Regions from separate parts of the Homo sapiens genome. Here regions 1 and 2 are each linked to region 3. The links come from fine-mapping of genetic effects on gene expression. A gene starts in region 3. Each other region holds a variant in brackets. All regions are shown on one strand. Distances are between the middles of the regions. Region 1 overlaps COG2 (component of oligomeric golgi complex 2). Region 2 overlaps COG2 (component of oligomeric golgi complex 2). Region 3 holds the start of COG2 (component of oligomeric golgi complex 2).

Region 1 (8,000 bases), 26 kb after region 3:
ATTACCTTCCCACACTGAATTTAAAATCAGTCAGGTAGTTGAGTGACTCAGAAAATGAATTGAATGGATCATTATGAACATTAATGGGAAACTCCATGGTGCAGTGGAAAGAGCATGGGCTTATGTTGCATGTACCAGCTGGGTAGCCTGAGTCAGGTTACTTCACTCTGTGTCTTGGTGTTGTCATCTCTCATATAAGGCTAATAGGAACTCCACTTGCAGGATTGGTAGCCATAGACTAGACCCTCATACATGTCTAGTTTGAGCCTAACACAAGCATCTCTGAAAGTCACATTGATAGCCATCATACTTTTCCTTGACTAATATGGGATAAGCTACAGGAAAACCAACCAGGACCAAATGGAATATACCTGCAGTTCAAAGTCCTGATCGTATTATCAAGACAAGTTGGATTTCTTAATTTTAGGAATCAGAATTTTAGATTTGGAGAGACTGTAGAGACAGTATGCTGTGTTTCTCTCATTTTATAGATGAGGAGATGAGGCATCCGAAAAGGAAATTATTCTCATGTCCTAGGTCTCTACTTTCTTTCCTGATCGAGATGTATAAATAAGTGGTCAATCGCTGCCATCTTTTTTCTTCAGCCTGTAGTACTTCTGCTTCTGTCCGTTCTGTTCCCCTTCATCTGCGCTCATCAGAGTCCCCATCAGTGTCAGTTCTGAGAGCCCAGCAGAGCCCTGTTCCACTAACTGCTCTGCTTCTGTCTTCCACTCAACAGCATTGACAGCCCCTCCCAACTATGTCCTCACTTGGCATCTGTGATACCTGCCTCCTCATTTTCTTTTCCTCCTTCCCCATTCCTACTCTGTTCCTTTGATGGACTCCACTGCCCTTTTTCATGCCAGCTTTCTCCAGGGCACTGTTCTTGGGACTGTGCTCTTGATCAGCACTTTCTGGGTAACCTCATCCAACCCCATGGTTTTAATGGCCTCCTGGATGCTGATCTCTTTATCTGCAGACGAACTTCTGTAGTCCTCAGACTCATCAGTCTGCTGACTGCGGGGAGTTTAGTGGACGTTCTCCAGGCACTTCACATTCATCATGTTGAAAACTGAGCTCTCATCTTCTTTCCCTGCCTCTCTCCACCAGCAAAAACATTTTACTCCTCCCTTTTATTCCTTGTCTTAGGAAACGGTGCCTTTATTTCCTTCACTAACGAGGCTAGACATCTTGGGGGAGTCATTTTCTCCTTTTTTAAACTTCATCTCCTTCTGGCGTTCACTAGGCAAGCCCTGGAGACTCTGCTGCTCTAGTGTCTCTGAGATTGAGAGATGTCTGCCTCCCCCTCTCAGTTCTCCCATTGCCTCGTTTCAGGCAGTGGCCTCCTGACTGACCTCTCATTTTCTCTAGGACAACTAACCCTAGCTGCCAAATGGATCTTTTAGATTTGTCTAATCACATCTTACTATGTGATTGGGAAACAATGGTTTCCTAGTGTTTTTAAGGTAAATCTTAAACTCCCAAGCTGCTCCTTGCCACTTCTGTATTCTTCACTAAAGCTATTCAGAACTACTTTTGGTTCCCTGACTGCCCTGAACATTGCTGACTTACGCTTCCTTAATTTTACTATGTATGGCCATTTGTTGTACTAAAAGCCCTTCCTTTAACTTCCACCTCCCTTTCACCTGCCCGATTTCTCTTTATTCCATCCAAATCTAGCTCAAAACATGCTTAAAGTATAGAAAGTTTAAAAATACTGTGCTAAGTGGAAAAAAAGCAGGTTATAAAACGATATGGATTTGTTTTGTAAAATTTATTCTTCTCTTTTGTGTGGGATACTGTTGATCCCTTCTGCTTTCTTTAAAACTGTCTCACTCAGTTCTGTGAGAGAAAGTACAAACAAGACACTACAAGAGTTCCCTTCCATAAAGCTCAATTACAAGACCACCTCTTTTAGCAAGTCTTCCCTGACCTTTCAGATTTAGATGCTCCATCTCCATGCATTCATCGGGCCTCCGGGTCATCCCCTAGACAACTTAACGGTGAGACTGGAACTGTTGATTGGCTTGCATGCCTTCTCAGTCTATAAGGCCCCTGACATCTTTACACCACAGTGTCTGGAACTAGTAGGTACCTAAGAAAAGATAACCAAACGTCTCCCACTAGTGGGGAACGGGCTTCTGATGACCTCAGTGATGTCTGTTTCTAGACATACTCTTATATTATTGTATTATATTATATTCAGTATGTTATATTCAGTATAATAGACACTGCAGTCTTCCTTGCTCCGAATCATCTTTGAGGAGCTTTTCTGATGACCTCAGTGATGTCTGTTTCTAGAGATACTCTTATATTATTGTATTATATTATATTCAGTATGTTATATTCAGTATAATAGACACTGCACTCTTCCTTGCTCCGAATCGTCTTTGAGGAGCTTTTCTTAAATTCAGATCTGCAAATTTGAGCTGTAGTGAAGGTAAAACCAGGGCAATATTACTGAATAGTAGATATACCATGCTTGTTAAGCCAAGAAACATTTAGATAATTTATAAATAATTAATTCACACGAGATTATTCAGGAAACAGTTAGGGATATTCAAGACAGAGTTTCCCTTTTTGGTTGGTCACACTGGGCAGTTCCTGTTCCTCTAAACTAGTTTGGATGCTACAAATACAGAACTGGGTGGACCACTGATGGTCTCAGTGCAGCATTTTATATGTCCTCATGATAGGGACATTTTTCCTCCCTAACTGGTGATGAGCCATCAGTGTACACAGGATGCCTCAGTATACACAGCAAGTGATTATGCCTTTATACTTCTCCTCTGCTATTTTACTTCCTTTTGAGTGATATTGACATTTTATAATATGTTTGGGGGGAAAAAGTGCATTTATTATATTTTGTGCCAGGTACGTAAAGAATGCCCTCTCACTAGGACCCACAGCATGTAGGTTGACTGCTCTTGCTGTTTGGTAAATGTAATTTTAAAGTAAGTTATTACTATTTAAATTTAAAATAAGATATTTTGAGATATTTATTGCTGCTGGAGAGTCAGTTTCATTCATTGAGGAGACAAATATATTTGGTATTTTAGAAATATCTAGAGGTATTTTAGCAAGGAGAGTGAGGCAGGCAGAGAAGTAGAAAGGATCCAGCTATAAGAAATGAGATGGAAAGAAAAAGAAAAGATAAGGAGGGAGAAGGGGAAAGGGGAGAGGGGGAAGAGGGAAA[T/A]AGAAGGGAGGTTAAAGCTGAAAAAGAAGGTCATGAATGGGAGAGCTTGGAGTCGGTGGCAGAAACACATAATTGCATGTCCACAGGCCTAGCCAGCCCTGCTGCTGTCTGGTCCCTGTGGGTCAAGGCCAGGCAGCATCAGCAGCTTGTACTCAACAGATTCCCCGGTGCACTTAGAACATGCTGTGCATATGGCGTCTGGGGAACATTGACTGATGGCACAAAAGACGCTTTAGCTTTCACCTTGTAACAAGGTGGCCACATAAAACACTCTGACAAAAGTCAAAATACAGTGGGTATGAAAGTCTCTCACTGCCAGGCGTGTGATGTATTCTCGTGGAAATAGAGACCTTAGGGGTTACACTTCTATAACTGTTTTCTCTACTAGCCCCCTTTTGACTGGACAAATTTTGGAGAGAATTGCCACAGAATTTAATCAGTTACAGTTTCATGCTGTTCAAAGCAAAGGCATGCCTCTTTTGGACAAAGTAAGACCGGTAAGTGTTGTTTTGGATTTCCACAGTTTGGTGTTTAGGGACTTGCTAAATAATTCTGGTTTAAACTAGTAATATTGTTGATCTACAGGGTTTTGAAGCTAACCTTGCATTTTTTTTCAATTTTTAATTTTTTGGGCGCCAGCTTCCTAAGTGTCACACATTATAGATTTTGTGTAAAGACTCAGTCACATTCTCCAGATGATAAGAGTAAAATTAATTCTGAATTTCATGGAATTGGACATCTTATATGATGTAGACAATTAATTTATCCAAAGCCCTTAATTGGATTTTAAATCCATGATGTTTCCTCAAGATTGACTTCGTAGCTTAAGAGGAAGGTAACTTTTTTCTCATTCTGTAATTCTGTCTAAATTCTTCTTTGATGAAGCAGAGATTTACTTATAAAGTGATTGGAGTGAGGGGTTCATTGTTATTCTCCAGGAAAAGTTATTATTTTGATTTTATATATGTCATTATCTGTTGGTGTAAGAGGCTTGTTATATATCTACTTGCAGTTTCAGAAACTGTTACAACTAGAGCTTTTTTTTTATTTACCCACCTTTTCTTGCAGCGTATAGCTGGCATTACAGCCATGTTACAGCAGTCACTGGAAGGTCTCCTATTAGAAGGCCTTCAGACGTCTGACGTCGATATAATACGGCACTGCTTGCGGACTTACGCCACGATTGACAAGACACGGGACGCGGAGGCCTTAGTTGGCCAAGTACTAGTGAAACCATACATAGACGAGGTCTGTGTACCTCCTTCAACAAACATTCATGAGCTTCTGTTCTGTCTTTGACTCTTTACTGGGTGTGAGGAAGATAAGAAGAGAGAACAGAGATCTTTCTGGAAAGATTCTCAGTTCCTACAGTACCAGCTATAAGGAAGGATTGGTCTCCATGGGTTATAGTTGGGAAGTAATGTTACGATGCCAGGAATTGGGCGTGCCGTCTCAGGTGTCCTAGGAATGCTGCGGCTCAGGCTTCAAGGGCGAGATTCAAGGGCATCCACGTGCTTTTAGGTCAATTTTATGGGAGGCGATGGTTCCTCAGTAATTGTTAAAAGAATGTTTTCAAATCACTGGTCTTGTGGGTGGACTAAGGCAATTAAGCAGTGACAACACTGCAGTGTACGAGGAAGGTGCAGGGAGTGCTGTGAGTGTGGAAAGGTGTGTGAGTGGGGTAGACAGTGGTACCCTCAAGTCTTCAGGGAATAAATGACATTTGGCCCAAGTCTTGAAAAATACAGAGGAGTTTGCTGGACGAGGAAGGTGAGAGGAGGAATATTCAAAGATCAAGGGCTTTTATAGCAAATTAGCCAAGTAATACCTTAAATCTAGAACTTGGCTATGCAGTATCCTTCACCTAGTAGGATATAGTTAAAATGTAGGAAACAAGTATATCCCACTTCTGAGCAGCCAGAGTATAGATTGTGCCATATAAAGTTGCTGATATTCAACAGTTTCTGACATACAAAAACAGCAGCTTTGTCTGCTTCAAACTGAGAGAAGTCACTGAGCCCGTCCTCGGTGTTTGGGGACTTTCCTCCAGTGTCCTGTCAGTATGAATGTTCTGACTGTTAGTAAATACAAAGATTATACTCACATGATTTCAGGGTGAAAGTCTTTTATTTTTTAAAGTGGAAAGTTGAGACTCCCAATGATAAAAATGAAATGTAGGGACTCATTTTAATAATTATTTTGGCCTTGTTAAGATTACTAAAAATAAATGATATTTCAGTTCTCTCTGTTTATATCATGTTATATTCCATAGCTGTCTCTATGGGGGTGAAAAAATTACATACATTATTTCTTTGTCAATAAGTGAAAAAATTTTTTTGTGCTTTGGGGGACAGGGTCTCACTCTGTCACGCAGGCTGGGGTGCAGAGGCATGATCATGGCTCACTGTAGCCTCAACCTCCTGGGCTCAAGCAGTCCTCCTACCTCAGCCTCCCAATTAGCTGGAACTACAGGTACACACCACCATGCCTGGCTAATGTTTTTTTTGTAGAGATGAGGTTTTGCCATGTTGTCCAAACTAATCTTGAACTCCTGAGCGCAAGTGATCTGCCTGCCTTGGTCTCCCAAAGTGCTGGGATTACAGGCGTGATCCACTGCGCCCAACCGATGAAAATATTTTAGTCACTAATCTATTCCTTTTTCACGGAACTGAATCTAGTGTGCTAAATTAAAGAACTATTTGAACTTTCAGTGGCATATTAAATTCAGTAGCCACATTGTGTTTTATTTAAACTCAGCTTATCTTGTCATATCATTCTTGTCTCCCAATTTTATCACAAAAAATAAAATAATGAACTAATATATTTTCTTCTGTCTTTCTCTGCCTCAAACCCTTCCCTAATCTGAATGATGGTAGAAAAAAAGGCCAGGATGAAGACAGTGAGGAGTTGTGGTGGCGAATCATGTGCTCTGCTTTAAATCTTTTTTTAAAAGTTGTTATTTTATTTTCAGACTCCCAGGGAAGCAGATGAGAGTGCATGGTTTGTCAGCCCATGTCTCCCCCACAGTTGTATCTGTACAGCCTAATCCAAGGAAGTAGTTTTGAATGTGACCTGTTATTTACTTCACTGTTTAGAAAATGTGTCACAGGGAGGAGGGTGAGTGTGAGGAAGCAGATTTGTAAAGTTTTCTTTATTGTTTTCTCTGAAATAGATCGTTTGTACTTCCCTTTTAAATGCTTTTTTAAAAAATGATTTTTCTTTTAATAGGTGATTATAGAGCAGTTTGTTGAATCTCATCCCAATGGCCTTCAGGTCATGTATAATAAACTCCTGGAGTTTGTTCCTCACCATTGCCGCCTTCTTCGAGAAGTCACAGGAGGTGCCATCTCCAGGTAATTTAAACAACCCTGTGTGGACCCCCACCTCCCTTTCAGTGACCGCACCTGCTAATTGCAGGTGCACGATGGACGATGACTGTCTTGTATGAACTGTCTTGTATGAATCCATTATGAATCTTGTTATTTCATTGTTTCTACTGGTGATACTGTGAGGCAGATTCCATTAGCCTCATTTCAAAGTTGTGGAAACTGAGATGAAGCTGAGACTGAAGACCACATTTCCGAATCCAAAGCCTAGCCTTTCTTCTTCTCTGCACTTTTTCCTAAATTTAGTTTGAAGTCAGAATTGCTTTCCTTCCATGATTCTAATATGTCATAATCTGTCTATAAATATTAATTCAGTTTATTTCAACAGGTTTTATACTAATTGTGAACTCATCTTCAATTTTTCCTCCTTTTGTTCAGTTTCCATGACTTCCTGATTCTCTTTCATAAATATCCCATTACTTTTCACCATTGCCATTGTCCCAGTCCAGGCCTTGTCATCTGCTGTCCACAATAATAGAATCTTCCCACCCTGTCTCCCTGCTTCCAGTCTCTCCCTCTCTAGTCTAGGCTTCTGACTGTCACATTTACCCAGAAATCTGAGATTCATAGATTTCTTCATGAATCTTTAGTGGCTTCTCAGTGCGCATGGAGGAAGATCCAGGCTTCTCGAAGCAGGGCATGAGGCCCTTTTTGTTCTTGCCTGGTAGCTCTCCACTGTAGAAACTTTCCCTCCATAGCCCTGGATGCTCCAGCCACACAGTGCTAGCTGCCTTTCCCCAGCTCCCTTGTACTCACGTGCTTCTGCGTTTTTCCTCTGCCTGCCCTCCCCTTCCTGTGCCCTTTGTTTTCCTGTCAAACTGCCTCTCCACATGAAGCTCCAGCTCAGATACCACCTCCTTCAAGAGACCATCCTTGACCGGGCGTAGTGGCTCACACCTGTGATCCCAGCACTTTGGGAGGCCAAGGCAGGTGAATCGCTTGAGGCCAGGAGTTCAAGACCAGCCTGGGCAACATGACAAAACCCCATCTTAAAAAAAAAAAAAGGCCATTTTTTCTCCTAATGTTCAGCATTCATCATGTCCTCTGGATTGCAGGATGTGTTGCTCTTGGGTCTGCTGAGTACTGATTTCCATGTTGCATTATGATCACCTCTCCGCTGCTCACACCTTCCCCTGCCTCTTGACACAGTGTCTTAGAGCTAGCAGCTGCCCAGTTAGTGCTTGCAAAATGAAAGAATTAACTATGTTTAATGATCGAAAGGCAAATAAGGTCTCTGTTTTCATGGAGCAAGCAATGTATTTGGCCTTGAGTTTTTGTTCTTTGCAGAAATATGGGGTAATTAATATGCTGCTTGGCCTTTGCAGTACCCTCTCTGTTTCCTCTGTACCACCTAAGATGAAGTCTAGTTTTGCTACTTTTGTTTAGTAATCATAAGGATTTAGTTGGATTTGGGGATA
Region 2 (8,000 bases), 37 kb after region 3:
TTTAATAATTTCTCAGTTTGTGTTTGTCTGAAAATAACTGTATTGCTTCTGTTTGTAAGGTCAGTTTGCTGGATGTATTAACAGAATTCTCAGCACTTTGAGTGTTGTCTTTTGAGTTGCATTATTAAGTTAGCCGTTAATTTAATTGTTATTTCTTTGTAGTTAATGCCTTTTTTCTCTGGCTGCTTTTAAGATCTTCTGTGTGACTTTGGTGTGCTAAGTAAGTTCTGCTATGATATGTCCAGTAGAACTTCTTTTTTTATTATTATCCTTAGGATTTGATAGGTTTTCTGAATCTGAGAATTGGTATCTTTCATCCATTCTGGAACATTTTTATATATTATTTCTTCAATTGTGCTTTTCTTTCATTCCTCTATCATCTCCATCTAGATCTCTTGTTTAGACAGGCTCACCCTATCCTCTGTATTTGCTGCATTCTCGATAATTTCACAGTCTGTCTTCTAGGTCACTAATTCCTTCTTTAGTTGTGTCTAAACTCTTTTCCACCTGCACATTGAGTTTCTGGTTAATTATCATATTTTTTTATTTCTAGAAGTCATATTTGTTGTTTGTCTAGCCTCCCTGGCGAATTTGTTTATTAATTTTTTAAGTGTAGAGAGGCACAAGATAAGCATAAACAGACAGCCTGGGGCCCAGCAGGTTTCCCACAGATAAGACAACACATTGGGAGGTTTACCATTCCAGAAATGCAACTTACCTTATCTGTTGGCTGATTGTCCCATGTTACAGTGCATTGAATAACAGGATTGTGCCATTTTCAATAAATTTTATAGCAACATTTGTAATTTTAAAAAGTAGGGCTTTTTAAATAAGATAGCATAAGGAGAGTGAAATAATGGCTTTAAGCAGAAGCAATTGTAAGCTTTAAGCACTAGCAAATGTGAAGACGCTTTACAATTTGCTGTGTGCTTTAGAGACTCGTATTGACCATGTTTGACTCAGGAAATGTTTCAGCTCAGAAATGAACCTTTCTGATAGAACTTGACTTTAGAATTTTAGGCTAATACTTAACATTTGTGAGTATAGTTTCCAGCAGATAGTATCCATTTATTTCCAGAAATACTTTCAGCTTTAAGCCTTAATGTAATGTGTTTCTTGTAAGAGGGCAATATCTTTATATTTGTTTTAGCATCCATTATATGCAGAGGTATAGTTTTGTCCCAAAAGGGAAGAATAATCCCTATTTTTGTCTCAACTCCACACACCTAGACCACCCTCTGGGATAACATAAGTTTGCCCAAAACCATTTGAAATAAATTTAAAGCCTGTAGTTTTTACTACTGTAAGATCCTTTCTAAGCACAGACTTTAGCATATTTAGATTAATGGTTTGATGACCCTGGATTGAGCCCCTTTTAATTGAGAAGAACATAAAAAATTCAACAGTGTTCTTAGAGCCTGGGGGCTTCGGGAATAAAGTACCCACAAAAGCAACATGCAGCCGCAGTTTTGGTCAACTGACTGACTAGCATTCTGCTTCCTCTACCGCCTGGCTTGTCTTTTGAGCAGGTTCTCTGTGAGCCTCAACAGAAGAAGAAGCATCATTTGTAAAATGGGGATGATGATGATGATGATGATGGTAGTTGCCCTGTGGGGTCGTTTTGTGGGTTAAATTAAATAAGACAATTCTAATCACAGTGTGTCGATGATAAATGCTACGAGTTAGCTGCCACTCTTAATGGTTTTGGTACATCTCCCTGTCAGTTTTCATGCTATCTTATTTATAAAAATGAAGTGAATACTCACATGGTTTGATTCTTTCTCTTCTCTCTCTTTCTTCTTCAGAATTTTCTCCTTCTTTCTCCTTTGTGAGGCAATGACGAACTATGTCATTTAATCTGCTGTCAATTCTAATTCCAGTGGGCTGGGGTAGGGGGCCCTAGAACATGAGCACTGCCATTTAAAGAGCACCAGACTTAGAGTGCCTGGGTCTCAGATGGGCTTTGCCATGGAAGACACGGAAGACATATCACAGAACCACTTTGGGCATTTATGTATCTTTAAATGGGGACATTGGAAGAAAGATCTTGTAAGTTCCTTGTTAACTCTAGAAACTGTGATTCTTACGTGTTGAGCTTCTTTATCTTGATTACAGTTTTCAGTACATGCTCCCTGTTCTAGTTAGTGTTCTAATAATGAAAATTTTCCTTTTGTTTTATTTTAGAAATATACCATAAGTATGGATTTTGTCAGAAGATTGGAACGGCAGTGTGGATCACAGGCTAGTGTAAAGAGATTAAGAGCCCATCCTGCCTATCACAGCTTCAATAAGAAGTGGAACTTGCCTGTTTATTTTCAAATAAGGTTGGTCATCTATTCACCGCCCCCGCCCCGCACCCTTCTAAAACAGAATTGGAATGCCAGTTAAGGATGTTGCCTCAGTTAGCGGCTCCTTTTCTCTGATCATCATAATAAGCTTTGGGAGACAAAATTGAAAGTGGAGAAAGAGATATAAGAAGTATTATGGTTGCCAAAGTCTGGCTTGCATGACAAAAAGATAAGTTTTCTTTTTTGGTAATTGGAGAGCTCAGAACACAAGAGTTGGAAGGAGCTGACTCCAAGCCCAGCCTCATTCCCACCCACCATGTCCTCATTCATTGTGAAAAGAGAAAGTAGGAGTTATACAGCAGCTCTTTTTTTCCATTTTCCCTATTTCATCGTCTGCCTCAAATAATGAACCTGTCTCACATCTGTTTTTGCTCGTCTGAGATACTTTTCCCCTAGAGGGAATGGGGAGAAGCAGAGCTTTAAGTGTTCTTTGCAGCTGGTTCCATCTATTAGTTTATGAGAAGCCTGGTCATTATTTCAGCCTCCCTGATCGTCTTTGTGACATTTGTACCCTCTATTCAGGAAAATGGTGACATTTTTCTTCCAGGTTTCATGATGATATCACCTTTGTCAATAAGCCATTCTATAAAATACTTGGGGGAAATTTAGGATGAACCCTTATCATACACTGCATTGGAAAAACATGATAAGAGTCATT[T/G]TTGCAGATTCTCTTGAATGAGGTCATGGTATGTTCTTCCGTAGAATGGATTTTACTTGAAATGCTCTTTGAAGAATCATAGGCTTTTTTATTTAAATTGCTGGATGCTTTCATTAATTATGATGCAGTCCTTTCCCCTAGCGTTCTGAGGAATAATTACAGAGAGGGAAATCAAGAATTAGGTACCCTGATGATAATTGCTTGAGATGATTGAGAATGTATGTAATGATCTTTTTATAATGAAATCACAGTTCTCAGAATGAAGTAGTAAGGTGCCCTTTCACTTACAATACTGTGTTTTATGCTAAATTTTCCAAGGTTGCATCATCATGTAGTTGGTCTCTCAGCAGGAAATTACGGATTTGTTCATCTAAGATATTAATGGGATGCACTGGAAATAGTTGGTATATGATAATCAACATCAAGCCAGGGCAAGAAACCTTTTTGATTTGTGAGCAGGATTTAAAATAGCAAAGCATCATTTTATAAAATGATACTGCTATGTAGAAATAATGTTTACATTTCCCCATCTCTTTTTGTCGTCCAGGTTTGGAGTTAGATTGCTTTAGTTATCTAATGCTGTCACCTCACAAACATACTCCTCTGCTTCCTGCCTCCAAACTTTCCTGGTCCTTTTCCTCAGACCCTGGGACCCATGCAGCATCACCTCACTCTTCCATCCCACCCCTGCACCTCCTGGAGCTCCCATGGGCTATTTCAGCCCATGCTCTTGGCTCTGCCAGGCTGGGCCCCTTGGTGACGGCCCAGCTTGGCTTCAGCTGCATCTCCCTTCCATTTCAGTTTCTCTCAAAGCTGGTAATTGGACCTTAAACTACATTGAAACTCAGCCAGTTCCCTGAAAGTCTTTTTTACCTTCACCAGATTTCAGCCTTAAGCCTTCAAAGGAGCTGATTAGCCTTTTTTAAAAAACCTCTTTTATTTAAAATTCATGAAATTTTAAAAAAACACGTTTGAGTTACGGAAGTGTAGAACTTGTCTTTAGTACATTTGTTTTTCCATCTAAAAAGTAAATTCCATTAAGACTTTGTAGAACTTTTCTATTGATTTTTATCAGGTGTTGAGTTGTTTGCTCTGAAGGATGACAAAAAGTTCCGCAAACATGATTAGGGTCAGAGTTGCATTGTCATCAGATTCATTTCAAGGTCATTTGAAGTAAACCTAAAGACAGTGGGGTGTGATGGTTGGACATTTCCTAAGAAGAAATATTACTCTCAGTAATAGTTTTCTGCTCCTGGATCTGACTATATACCCACATCCCAATCACCTTCAGGAAAAAGGCCACCTCCCCACCCCAGCCACCACCACAATTCTTGTGAACACATTTTGTATCCTCTCACTCTTCCTGAGACCCCACTGTGTCTACATTTCATTTGCACCTACAGGCATATTGGAAAGTAGATGAGGACTTAGTATCTCATAGGAAGAAATTAAATGCAGATGTGATCAAAACAGCCCCAAATTATAATGAGTCAGTGGCTGCCTGGAAACTGCAGGTGTTAGCTCTTTAAATGCTAAAGCCTAAATTTCAGTTTGCTGTTCTTTTTAAAATTGAAATCTTTATAGTACATTCACATGTATATACTGTATTACATAGTATATGCTGAACACAGTCTTATGATGTGGAATCTACATAGTAGTATTAAGGTGCAAGTAGCCCTTTCCTGTTCCTGCACTCCTCTCAGACATGTGTATCCACAAGAGACGGGTGCACTTAATGATGTTTCCAATACTTCAGAGAAAAAAAACAATAGGCATCACTATTATTATCGCCATTGTTATTTTTATTTAAGTATTATTGTAGACCTGTGATGTTCGTGGAGGAATATGTCTAGAGACCTTCCCCAGGCCTATATTTAAGAATTTAGAAATGTTTGTATTTGGGGTTGCCCTTCTTACATGGATCCTGTTGAGAGTAGAATGACATTCGATGTGCACATGAAAACCACAGCATGGCTTTTCAGATTTCAGCAGAGGTTCCCTCTCACTTTTGGCCATTTTCCAAGAAGAAATATGATCTGTTGCTTCATTCCTGGAAGTGACTGCACAGCAGAGCTGTGTGAGGGGCTGGTCCCCTGGCTGGGGAGCACACCTAGGCCAAGTGACTCAGGCAGTTGTAATCATGTATCACTGTCCCTGCTCACAGACAGGCAGAACGTCTCTGTGAAGTGCAGGGATCAAGGCTCTGCTGCATTTCTTTGGTCCTTTTTCATTTCTATGCTTTTCAGAATTATCATAAATATACATAAAACTTTGTGTCCCATGTCTTTGGATAGTACTAAATTATACCTATTTTTCCTTATTGGAAAATAGCATCAAGCTTCCACATTAATACTGCATACTAGTCCATTGAATATATCTCAGGTTCCATAAGCATATTCCTTCTTTTGGCCATTTAGGTTGCTTCCAGTTTTTCCCTGATATAAACAGTGCTGTGCCAGCTATCAGGCCTTTTCTGTATCAGGGCTAACTTCCTATATTTTGTTTAGATTTTGAAAAAAGGCAGGACTTGGGGGTCTGAGATTGAGCTCTAGGTGCTGGTTTGCTCTCCCAGGTGCAGAGCAATCCCATCTCCCTTGTTCCCGTGCTCAGTGTCACTGCCTCCTCTTACTGCTGTTCCTGGGCTAGTTTCCAGTGCTCTCTTATCCCACTTTTCCATCTGTCACTTGTTCCTTCTGTACCTCTCAACTGCAGCTTGAAAAGACTAGCCTTTTGTAAGCTTCACTGGGCAATTAGAGTTCCTTTCCTTCCATGGGGCAGACGGGACAGCTACTGGAAACCAGCCAGCTACAATGGTACAGGATAGCCTTAGTGTCTTCAGTGCTCAGCTGTGTTGGGTAGGGCTGCTGCTTTTTGTCTCAAGCTGTTCTTTTTACTCTTCAGACAGTTGCCTTTAGCTCAGTCTGTGAACCGCTTTGTAAAAGCACATTATGTACTATAAAAAATAATTTAATATCAGTTGGATAAATTGATATTGAGCATGCATCAGAATTCATTACTAGTAAGGCAATTAGCAGGTGACAAAAGAGCATGCTAGTAAAGAGATATATGAAATTGCAAGAGTTATATAGTTAGAAAACAATGCCTGCAAAAGCAGCTAGCTTAAAAAAACTATATAACACATTTGCCTTTCACAAAGTCATAAAAACATGTCCATATCCATTATTAGAACAGAAGTCTGTGACAGGATGAGCTGAGGTGCCAGGTGAGCCAGCTGTCATCAGGGAAAAAAGAACGCACATCTAGGAAGCGCTGGTACAGACAGCCGTAGAACCCGAAGGGCAAGTACCATGGACGTGGGAGAGGGTCACAGATTAGAAGAGCACCAAGCAGTGAGTTCTAGTTTTAACTGGCCACTTCCTGTGATTTTTCTCAAGCTGCCAACACAGGTACAGAATGCAGCTTTCTTAGCTTGGGGACGTTTACCTTCCTGTGATGGTGTTAAGATAGATGGGTTGGAGGAACCAAAGTTTTATGGCCTTGAAGTGAATAGAGGATCATAATCAGGTGCTGCTCACCAGCAACAACTTCTTGATGGAGACTTAACTGGCAGTTTGTTTAATTTGAGAAACATGGGGTAAGTTATGATTCAGACCAGCTGCAAATAACAGAGAACCCTTATATAACAGTGGCTTAGTCACGATTTCTTGTTCAGTTAAAAAAAAAAAAAAAAAAAAGCCTGGGAGAATAGGCATTCCGAGGCTGGACTTACCAGTGAGTGACAGAGGAAGTTCCTGTTACTTAGGAAAAACAGAGAATGGATAGGGAAAGGCATCTGTCAGAGTCATAAACATTAATTCTTCTTCTTGTTTTTATCTCAGATTTAGAGAAATAGCGGGATCCTTAGAAGCAGCACTTACAGATGTCCTGGAAGATGCCCCAGGTAACTCCCTTAAAGTGATAAGTGGCATGGTATCCTAAATGAGTTCATTCAGTTCACCAAGTCATCTGGATTGCAGTATTCTGAGCGTACTTTTACTGTTTTTTTTTTTTAATCATACAGTAAGTTGGACCTTAAAAATCACTTAGTTTGACTTCTTTTTTTTGCTTTTTTTTTGAGATGGAGTCTCGCTGTGTTGCCCAGGCTGGAGTGCAATGGCATGATCTTGGCTCACTGCAGCCCCCGCCTCCCAGGTTCAAGCTATTCTCCTGGCTTAGCCTCGAAAGTAGCTGGGATTACAGGTGTACACCACCACGCCTAGTTAATTTTTTTATTTTTAGCAGAGACAGGGTTTCACCATGTTGGCCAGGCTGGTCTCGAACTCTGACCTCAAGTGATTCACCCCCCCTTGGCCTTCCAGAGTGCTGGGATTACAGGCATGAGCCACCACACCCAGCCTGACTTCTTTTTTTAATAAGGTAAAAATAAACCAAATAGTTTTGGTGTATAGAGTTCTTGCTTTATAGAGATGAAAAATGAATAAGAATATAGGAAACAGACCTCATTTTCATTCCTGAATATAACTTGTCCAGGGGATATGGCCCCTTGGTGTGCTTATGTGAACAGCTGGTTTTTTTTAGCAAATTGGCTGTGATCTGCCTTCCTCCCAGGCTGAGGACTGGTCTGCATGGTAGAGGGTCAGGTGCTCCTGCGTCTCACTGAGAATGACTCACAGCTGGAGCATGCATCCTGGGCCTCCTGTGCCCTGGCCGCCCATCCTAGGATGTTGGGCAGGTAACAGTTGTAGGTATGTGGACTTACCAGTACATGTTGACATACCCTTTCAGCCTCATTAATTTTTGTATCATATATTTATTCCTAGTGACCACTGAAATACTGTGTGCTGATATCTAGGTTCCTCAACTTAAATTTCCACTCTCTTTTATACAGCTAAGTCTACTGTCATTTTGAATCAATTTTAGCCTCAGAGTTAGTTTTCATCTGTCTTTGCCAAAAATGGTCATATGTAGTTAACTTCTTCTATAAAAATAAGAAGTATGTTGAGATAGAGGAAGACTCTTGTGAAATAGGACAA
Region 3 (8,335 bases):
TGACTGTATCCTCAGCCTTCAGGTCAAGCACATGATCTGTTTAAAAATGGAAACCCTCCTATCCTTCAGTAGTGAACAAGGGCGACTCTGGTTGCTTTTGGAAAATTCAGCTGCTTTAGTCCAACAGTTCAGGAGAGGATCAGCATAAGAACTTGGTGATGATTACTAGAGAAAATGCTCCTATGATTTCCTGAGCATAATATTTCCCCTTGCAATTTTTGAGTGTTCTATAGCAAACCTGCCAAAAATGTGGAGCCTATAAATAGGGGAGAGTGGGAAGAAAAAAATGGGACCTCTCACAATGCCACTGAAAACAGGGAACTAAAAATTTTCCAGAGATGCAAAGTCAAAGGGGGATTAATATTTACTTAGAAATGAAGTAGCAGGTGCATGCTTTATAAAGAAAAGCCAAGAAAGGATGAAATTAGGGGAGAGACTGAAAAAGATGGAAAAATGTGCCAACTAAAGTCTCATTTTGAAGAAAGTTACAGATCAACAAAGGGGGAAAAACTCAGGTAAAAAGACTCCATATTATGTCTTGCATTGATTAGGCAGGTGCTTTATATGCACTTTTAAATTTTCTCTTCCTGCAAATACTATGAAATAAGTATCACTACCAGAGATGACATTCAAATATTTAACAGCAGACAAATATTTAACAGCACAGACACTAGCCAATCAGAAGCTGGCTAGAGGAGCCCCGCTAAGCCAGGCAGTAACCCTCTAATGGCTGGATCATGAGGCCAAGGTAGGGGTCAGGGCAGCAGCAGATTCTGTACAGAGGCCATTCACCAACCTTTGAGATGTTGCAATATTTACCAAGTAGCACAGCTGAAATACTGTGTGCCAGTTGAACATCAGCTCTGAGTGGAAACCCAGGGCCATGTCCTCTGGGCAGGTGTAGGCTTTCTCTCTTGCGTTTGTCCTCTGTAGATTATGATGCTAGCATTGAAGTCTTTCTTGTTGCGCCTGGCTGTGGTGGTCTGCACCACTATCTGTGTCTCCAAGCCGCAGCCCACTCCATGGGGTCCTGATGGTTCCCTTCTGAATCTAGGGAGGACAGCAGGCAGCAGGGACCCTCCATCGCTGTTGCCACTTAATCCCTTTAGCATCCTCAAGATAAGCCCAGTCTGTACAAATTCAGGTTCATTTTATTTCTAAAGTCCCAGGAACAATGTCAGAAGGGAATTACAGTGAAGAAAGAAAGAGTTCAAGTTCCAGCTTACCTAGACTTCCTGCAGAGCCTCGAAAGAGAAGGCAGGGTTGCAGACATCTTTGTTTCATCTGTCCAGCATCCTCTCCCGTGCCTTGGTACTGGGCTTTGAAGCCAGGCTGCCTGGGTTTGCAACTTGCCACTTATTAACAGTGTGACCTTGGGATAAAGGCCCACCTTTCAGAGCCACTATAGATTGGTTATTGGAATTGCTGGTTTTGTTAGGTGTTACAAAATGTCAGGGTTTTTTTTTCTTCTTTTGATGCGTAAACTGAGGTATTAGGGGATAGGAAATGATATGGTGTTTAGAATTTGCTTTAAAACATATTCCAATAAAAGGGCTGGACTCAGTGGTTCATGCCTGTAAACCTAGCACTTTGGGAGGCTGAGGCGGGTGGATCATCTGAGGTCAGGGGTTCGAGACCAGCCTGACCAACAGGGAGAAACACCATCTCTACTAAAAGTACAAAATTAGCCAGGCATGGTGGCACATGCCTGTAATCCCAGCTACTCGGGAGGCTGAGGCAGGAGAATCGCTTGAACCTGGGAGGTGGAGGTTGCGGTAAGCAGAGATCATGCCATTGCACTCCAGCATGTGTAACAACAGTGAAACTCCGTCTCAAAAAAATATATATATATATGTATATATATATATATATAAAACAACAAAAAAAGAAGGTCTCGATGCGGTGGGTGGGGAAGGGCAGAGGAGACAGGTTGATGATGGTTGAAGCGAGGTGCTAAGTACATAGGGTGGGGTTCTTGTGCTCTCCACACTTCTGTGTACTTGAAAATTTTCATAACAAGAGAAAACAAAAAATTAAACAGAAAATGAGGTTTTCATTTCCTCCAGCAAAACAAACATAACAGGGACTTAGGATGTACTTTTCCCAATCGCTCCTCTGGCAGAATATTTTGATCCTCCAGCTAGCTTCCGGCTCTTATCCTGTTCATCTGTTCTGTAGATACTGGCAGGAAATAGGCTCTTCAACAGGGCCTGCTAGGTCCAGTGCTAGGGAGTAGAGCGTTTTGGATTCTACGCCTACATTTTTTTTTAAGTGACCAGTTTTCTAGTTGAGATACTTGAAATACAAAGTCTCATGGTGAGGTCTTACCCTCTGCTGTCCCATTCCTTTTTACAGGCCATCATGGCGTTAATCTTATCTCCAAGGAGAAAAATTGGGAAGAGAGGCCTAGATTCCTCAACAGAAGCGGGAAGGAAAGGTTTGCAGAATGAAGAGTGTGAAGTGAGGTTTGTGGTTTGAATCATCCGAATGTCAAGGAGAAAAGAAGAAAAATGAATCATCATCATTTGACCACGGTATTTACAGCTAGCGGAAGGGACAAGAGGAGAAAAAAGCAAGGGAGGAGATAAAGGAAGAACGTCTCAGAATAAAATTGGGGTGGGTGGGGGGAGGAGGAGGAAGACAGTCTAAGAAATTGGTTTGGTTGCACCAGTACTGGCCACAACACAAAAATTTGTCCATTCCTGGTTGAAATTAAAAATAAATGTGCATGCACATGTATTTGTCTGCTGTGTTTAATCAGATAGCGAGGCACTCCTTTAAGCACCTTGAAGACCCAAAGTTGCGCTCAGAGGCTGCCCACCTGGAACGGAGACCGAGGTTGAGCAGGGAGCTACTCAGAGGACCCAAAGCCGCCTAGCTGACCACCTTCTTCCCTATGAGTTCCCAGTAACGGAGCCCAGTGGAGGAGACGCTACACTTCTCTGTGGGGACAGAGGCTAAGGGCGGGGGTCTCCATAGAGGCGTTAGCGCCCACCAGCGGCAGTGACCGCGCACAGGGAGGTGAAGAATGCGACCACGGTGATACGTCCAACCTGGAAAACGGGCCTGAGAACCAAAGGGCCAACTTCTGGCCATGCATAACGAAGCAGAGCAGTCTCAGGGTAGAAGGCACTGGAAAAGCGTTGTAGGACAATTTTTCCCAGTAGAAACGGTGGGGGTGGGAGGGAGACCCGCTCACCCCTTTTGACCCACCCCTGCAGCTCAGCCACGCCTCCTAGGGAGGTGGGCAGCCTTGCAGGAGCCCGCGCGAGGCTGCAGTACCGCCCTCCGCCACATGAGGGCAGCACGGCCTACCCGTGCAGCAGCGGCGGCCCCCGCGCCCCTCTTGGCCAGAGCCAGGCGCAGGCCGGCTTGCGGTGCCGTCGTTCATTGGCCGCGGCGCGGGCGCTGCCATGTTGGCGGAAGCGGACCCCCCTGTGCCGTGGAAACTGGCGGTGGCCGCGGCCGCCGAGTCGGTCTGCGCAGCCTCCTGCGTTTTCTCGCTTGGATCTTGGCACTGAGAGGCGGTGGCCGGCGGGATGGAGAAAAGTAGGATGAACCTGCCCAAGGGGCCGGACACGCTCTGCTTCGACAAGGACGAGTTCATGAAGGTGCGCGCGGCGTCCGCTCCCCGGAGCCGGGCCATGAGGGTGCCTCTGCCCTGTGCCCTCTGTGGCGGTCTCTTCGGTCGGCTGCTCCTGCCTGCGCACGCTCAGTGTCAGGTCCTCCGCCGAGACCTCGCTGCACTTCGCAATGAGTCTTTTGGCGTCAGGTTTGGCGGGTGCAGCCTGGAGAAAGCACTTCTGTAAAATCGTGCGTGTTACATGGAAAGGCCTGAAAGTTCTGGGCAAGTGGTTTTGAGCTGCATGTCAAAGCCACTGTTACCCGTTCCTGTTACCATGCAGTGCAGTCAGATTGCCAGTCCCCTTGTCGGAAAGAAGCTTGTGGACCGGGGCCTTGGAGCTCATTAAGTGTGTGTTGAATAAATCTCCAAGCCCACGTACTTTCCTAGGGACTCGGGTCGGAAAGAAAAAGAACTTAATCTGAAGTTTTGCTTAACATTCAGCTAAAGCTTCCAGAATGGGATATTTAGAAGCTTAGAACATTCTTACCGACTATTGCAGTACGACAAAGCAAACCATTACTCTTTAAAGAAGTTGCTCTACTTTTTACGTGATGCATTTGAAGAAGTTGGTAGTTGTAGGTCATAAACTTAGAGAAAAGAAATATAAACTGAAAACACTTCACTGATGATAAAGTTCATCAGGCACAGCCTTGAAAATGGCCAGGCTTTGAGTGAGAGCTGGGAGGAGCTTTGCTCCTACTTGGTGTATCCCTCTGGGTCTGCACTTAAGCCATTCAAAAAATGTTTCTATTTAATTTCCTGAGGACTAGGATTTTTGACACCTTTTAGTAGCTGCTTTCAGTGTTAAAAAGCGAAAAGTTTTAGCTGGTTAGTAGACATCTACAATTTTGAGCAAGTGAGTTGAAATCTTACTCTGCCTTTCTTGGTGACATAATGTTTTCTAGATTAATTAGCCTATCTCTTTTTGATAATATTTGCATTCAGATTACATCTCCAAAGCTGTTTTTTTTTAAAGTAGATCTGTATCTTCTCCAGTGTGACCATATCATTTTTCGTATGTAGGACTTATCTATACCCAGGAATAATGTACCTTATTCTTGTAAGTGATATTCCTATTAGACCACTGTACTAAAAGGTGTAACTTCATTAGGATGTCTCAAAGAATGTACAGAATCAACTCATTGATCCAGAAACCCTTCGTTTTGCCTACTGGCTAAGAGCTACCCTGAAATGAGGGTAGAAAGAAACAGCTAAGGGTACATGCTGGGGAGAGGTGCCCTGGAAGAGGAAAGGCCATACACGGAGATCAGGGGCCTTGTTGACGTCAAGAATCTCAGAGTACAGAATAATCTCAGTTTGTCCATCTCTTGACTTCTTAAGGCTCAACACCAGCATCTTCTCTGACTCACTAGCCCCACCACCTTTCCCACTCTGAGTTGACAGAATGCCTTTGGTAAATGCAGCTTCAGGAAGTGAAATCACAGAAATACAAGTTCTAAAATAGAACTTAGAGTGCAAACTGGGGTGGTGGCTGGAATGCCAGCAATTGCATATTTCGTGGCTCTGTGAATATGCGGTACATTTTGTAGTGCTTATAAAAGTGACAACATACATAGAAGAAAATACATAGAACAGCTGTTCTGTGTAAAATTTTGTTGATTTTTTAGGTGGAGCTTGAAGATAAAGGTTATTTGCAATTTGTGTTGCCTTAAACATATAAAACTACATATAAGTTGCACTTCCATGGCAGAAAGGATGGTTGGAACACTTGTCCAGGCTATATTTCTATGTTTGTGTCTCATTCAGCACATTTTGTAATTGGATAGGTTTTGTACGTGTGAGAAAGTTGGGATATGACATTTGCATTGGGAGATTTGAGATTGCTTGAAAATCCAGATTTAAAGTTGCTTGAAATCCACTCTCTTCTGTTATTACCTCTCTTCTGGTATTACGTCTCTTCTGGTGTTGATGGGAAACTGTGTTTAGGTTGCCATAGATCATGAGGGCATGCTAGTGCAGTGGTAGCAATTGTTCAGTCAGTGGGCATTCCATGATCACCTGCTGTGTGCAGGTTTCAATGGGCCTTGTATACTGTACTGACGGATTTGCACTTGATTTAGTATTCATTGTGGAGTTACAGTCAGGTTAAAAGCAGGAAATGACATGATCATGTATGTTGCAGTTGGAACTGACTGGTGGCGGGAGGCTACTTAAAAAGTTATTTCAGTGGTTTTTATGAGATCTGAGAAATACAGGAGGGGATAGTTTGTGGAAAATATTACGTAAATGATCAAAAAGCAGGAGTGGCAGATGAACGAATCACTTGAGGGGTCAAAGGTGGTAATGGCATGATACTGTTGACTTCGTCAGCTTAATAAAATATACACACTGAGCAACATAGTGAGAATGCATTTCTACAAAATATTGAAAAATTAGCCAGGTGTGGTGGCACATACCTGTAGTCCCAGCTACTTGGGAGGCTGAGGTGGGAGGATTACCTGAGCCTGTGGAGGTCAAGGCTGCAGTGAGCCAGGATTGCAGCACTGCACTTCAGCCTGGGCAACAGAAAGAGACCCTGTCAAAAAAAAAAAAAAAAAAAAAAAGAAAATGTACAAACACTCTTAGAGAGGGTTGACAATCAGTAGATGAATTAGGATGTAAGATACTGGTAGTAGGAGAGAGGTGGTAGGCTAACAGGGATAACTTAAACCCACTTAACCTAGGTATGCTGTGGCAATCATATCCTTCTGTCTCACGTATGACTTCATGTGTTTTACAGAAAAAATAGAGGCCATCAAGCGGTAGCTCCTTCATCTTGCTGACAGCAACCTCGTTCTTGCATTTGTACCTGTTCTCACTCCCATCATTAACCTGTTGTGTAGGGCAATGGTCCCCAACCTTTTTGACACTTTTGGAAGACAATTTTTCCATGGACCAGGAGTGCAGGGGATGGTTTTGGGGTGATTCAAGCGCATTACATTTATTGTACACTTTATTTCTATAATTATTACATTGTAATACATAATGAAATAGTTATAAAATTCACCGTAATGTAGAATCAGTGGGAGCTCTGACCTTGTTTTCTTGCAACTAGACAGTCCTGTCTGGGGGGTGATGGGAGACACTGACAGATCATTCAGCATTAGGTTTTCATAAGGAGTGCCTAACCTAGATCCCTCGCATGTGCAGTTCACAGTAGGGTCCATGCTCCTATGAGAATCTAGTGCTGCCACTGATCTGACAGGAGGCGGAGCTCCAATACAGAGTGGCTGTGAATACAGGCTGCGCTCCTCCTGCTGGGCCACCCGGTTCCCCACAGGTAGTTGGGGACGCTGGTGTAGGGGTCTTTCCTTCCTCCTGAGGTCTGCCTCCCATGCCTGGATCCGGTGCCCTCTCCCTTCTCAGGACCCTGTTATTCCCACCCTCTCCACACTTCTTCCCATTGGCTTTCAGACACACTCCTATTTTAGTTTCTTCTACTGGACCCTCCAACCTCCAGTTAAAGCCCATCGCTCTCTTCCATCTCACAGCCAAATGCTCACAGCCAAATGTTGTCTTTACTTTCTCTCCCTTCACTCTTAAATTCACTTCACTCTGGTTTCTGGCCCCATCATTCCACTAAAGACTTCTCACCAAAGTTAACTAGATGGAAGTCGATCCACCAGACCTTCTCTGCTTCCTTCCCTGACCTCAGTAGATCAAATGCTCCCTTCATTTGCTTTCTGAAACCTGGTGCTTTCTGGTTATCTTTTGGCCTCTCTGGTCTCCTTGTCTCTTTTGCATAATCATTCTCCTCCTAGCCATTAATTGGTGGGTTATGGACTCAGCCACGTGTCTGTTCCTTTTCACATGCTGTGCACTTTCCGCAGGTGACCCACTTCATGCAGCTTCAATGACCACGTGTAGACAGGTGAAAGGTTCATACTTCTGGCCCAAATACCTTCTTATCTGCAACCCCATGTGCACAGCGCCTTGACATCTCTTCTTGGCTATCTCTGTGGCACCTCAAACTCGGCATATTTAAAACTGAATTTGTTGGGGGAAGATGAAAAAAACCAACCTTCTCTCAAACTTGGCTCTCTTCTGGTATTACCTATCTCAGGTAATACTAGACCTGAGGTAATCCATCCATCTGGTTGTGAGTCAGATGTTATCAAGGAGTCATCCTTGATAACACCTCTCTCCTTCACATTCTTGAAATCCAACCTGTTACTAAGCCTTAGGATTTCACTTCCCAAATATCTCTGAAATTTGTCTACTTCTCTCCATCTCCTCTTTTCCCACTTTCTGACTCATCATTATCTCTGGCCATTATAATCTAGTGGCTTCTTACTGTAGTCCCCTGGCATCCATTCTTGCCTTTTTCTAGTCCGTGTTCTACATCACAGGCAGGGTGCCCTTTTCAAAACGCATCTCGGTGCTTGTATGTAACAGGTGCTTGTATGTAATCAGACTGCCACCTGTATACACCATGAAAACATGAGAAAGCATTTTCCAGAACACTTGGAAGTATTCCAGAGCAGCTTATTGCACTGATGGACAGTTTCTATTGATTAGTAGCTATCTTGGTTATCTGATTGAAAAAACATAGCGTATATAGAGTTGGGTACTATCTGTGGTTTCAGGCATTGACTGGGGGTCTTGGAATATATCTCCCTCAGATAAGGGGACCCCTTACTGTAGTTCTGAGGCTCATCTGTATTCTAAGTGTGTAAATAGGGAATATTGAAACAGGAGGTGTGTCCAAGA

Evidence for each region.
Region 1: its variant is fine-mapped to the expression of COG2 in whole blood (TOPMed, PIP above 0.99). The same link has a PIP of 0.9 or more in thyroid.
Region 2: its variant is fine-mapped to the expression of COG2 in sun-exposed skin (GTEx, PIP above 0.99).

The regions. Positions count from the first base shown.
Region 1 is chr1:230,665,092-230,673,091 of GRCh38, forward strand. It overlaps COG2 (component of oligomeric golgi complex 2), which reads left to right. Exons shown (of 18, transcript NM_007357.3): 6 at 3,585-3,693; 7 at 4,265-4,444; 8 at 6,425-6,549. Among named protein-coding and RNA genes, the nearest start is that of COG2, 27 kb to the left of the region's middle. The variant T/A (reference allele first, on the strand shown) is at 3,197.
Region 2 is chr1:230,676,729-230,684,728 of GRCh38, forward strand. It overlaps COG2 (component of oligomeric golgi complex 2), which reads left to right. Exons shown (of 18, transcript NM_007357.3): 10 at 2,185-2,324; 11 at 6,846-6,907. Among named protein-coding and RNA genes, the nearest start is that of AGT, 33 kb to the right of the region's middle. The variant T/G (reference allele first, on the strand shown) is at 3,007.
Region 3 is chr1:230,639,068-230,647,402 of GRCh38, forward strand. It overlaps COG2 (component of oligomeric golgi complex 2), which reads left to right and starts at 3,414. Exons shown (of 18, transcript NM_007357.3): 1 at 3,414-3,611. The coding sequence starts at 3,540. It overlaps LOC124904545 (a long non-coding RNA gene), which reads right to left and starts at 1,630. Exons shown (of 2, transcript XR_007066935.1): 1 at 1,227-1,630; 2 at 1-1,050. RefSeq lists silencers at 3,208-3,347, 4,961-5,080 and an enhancer at 3,438-3,657.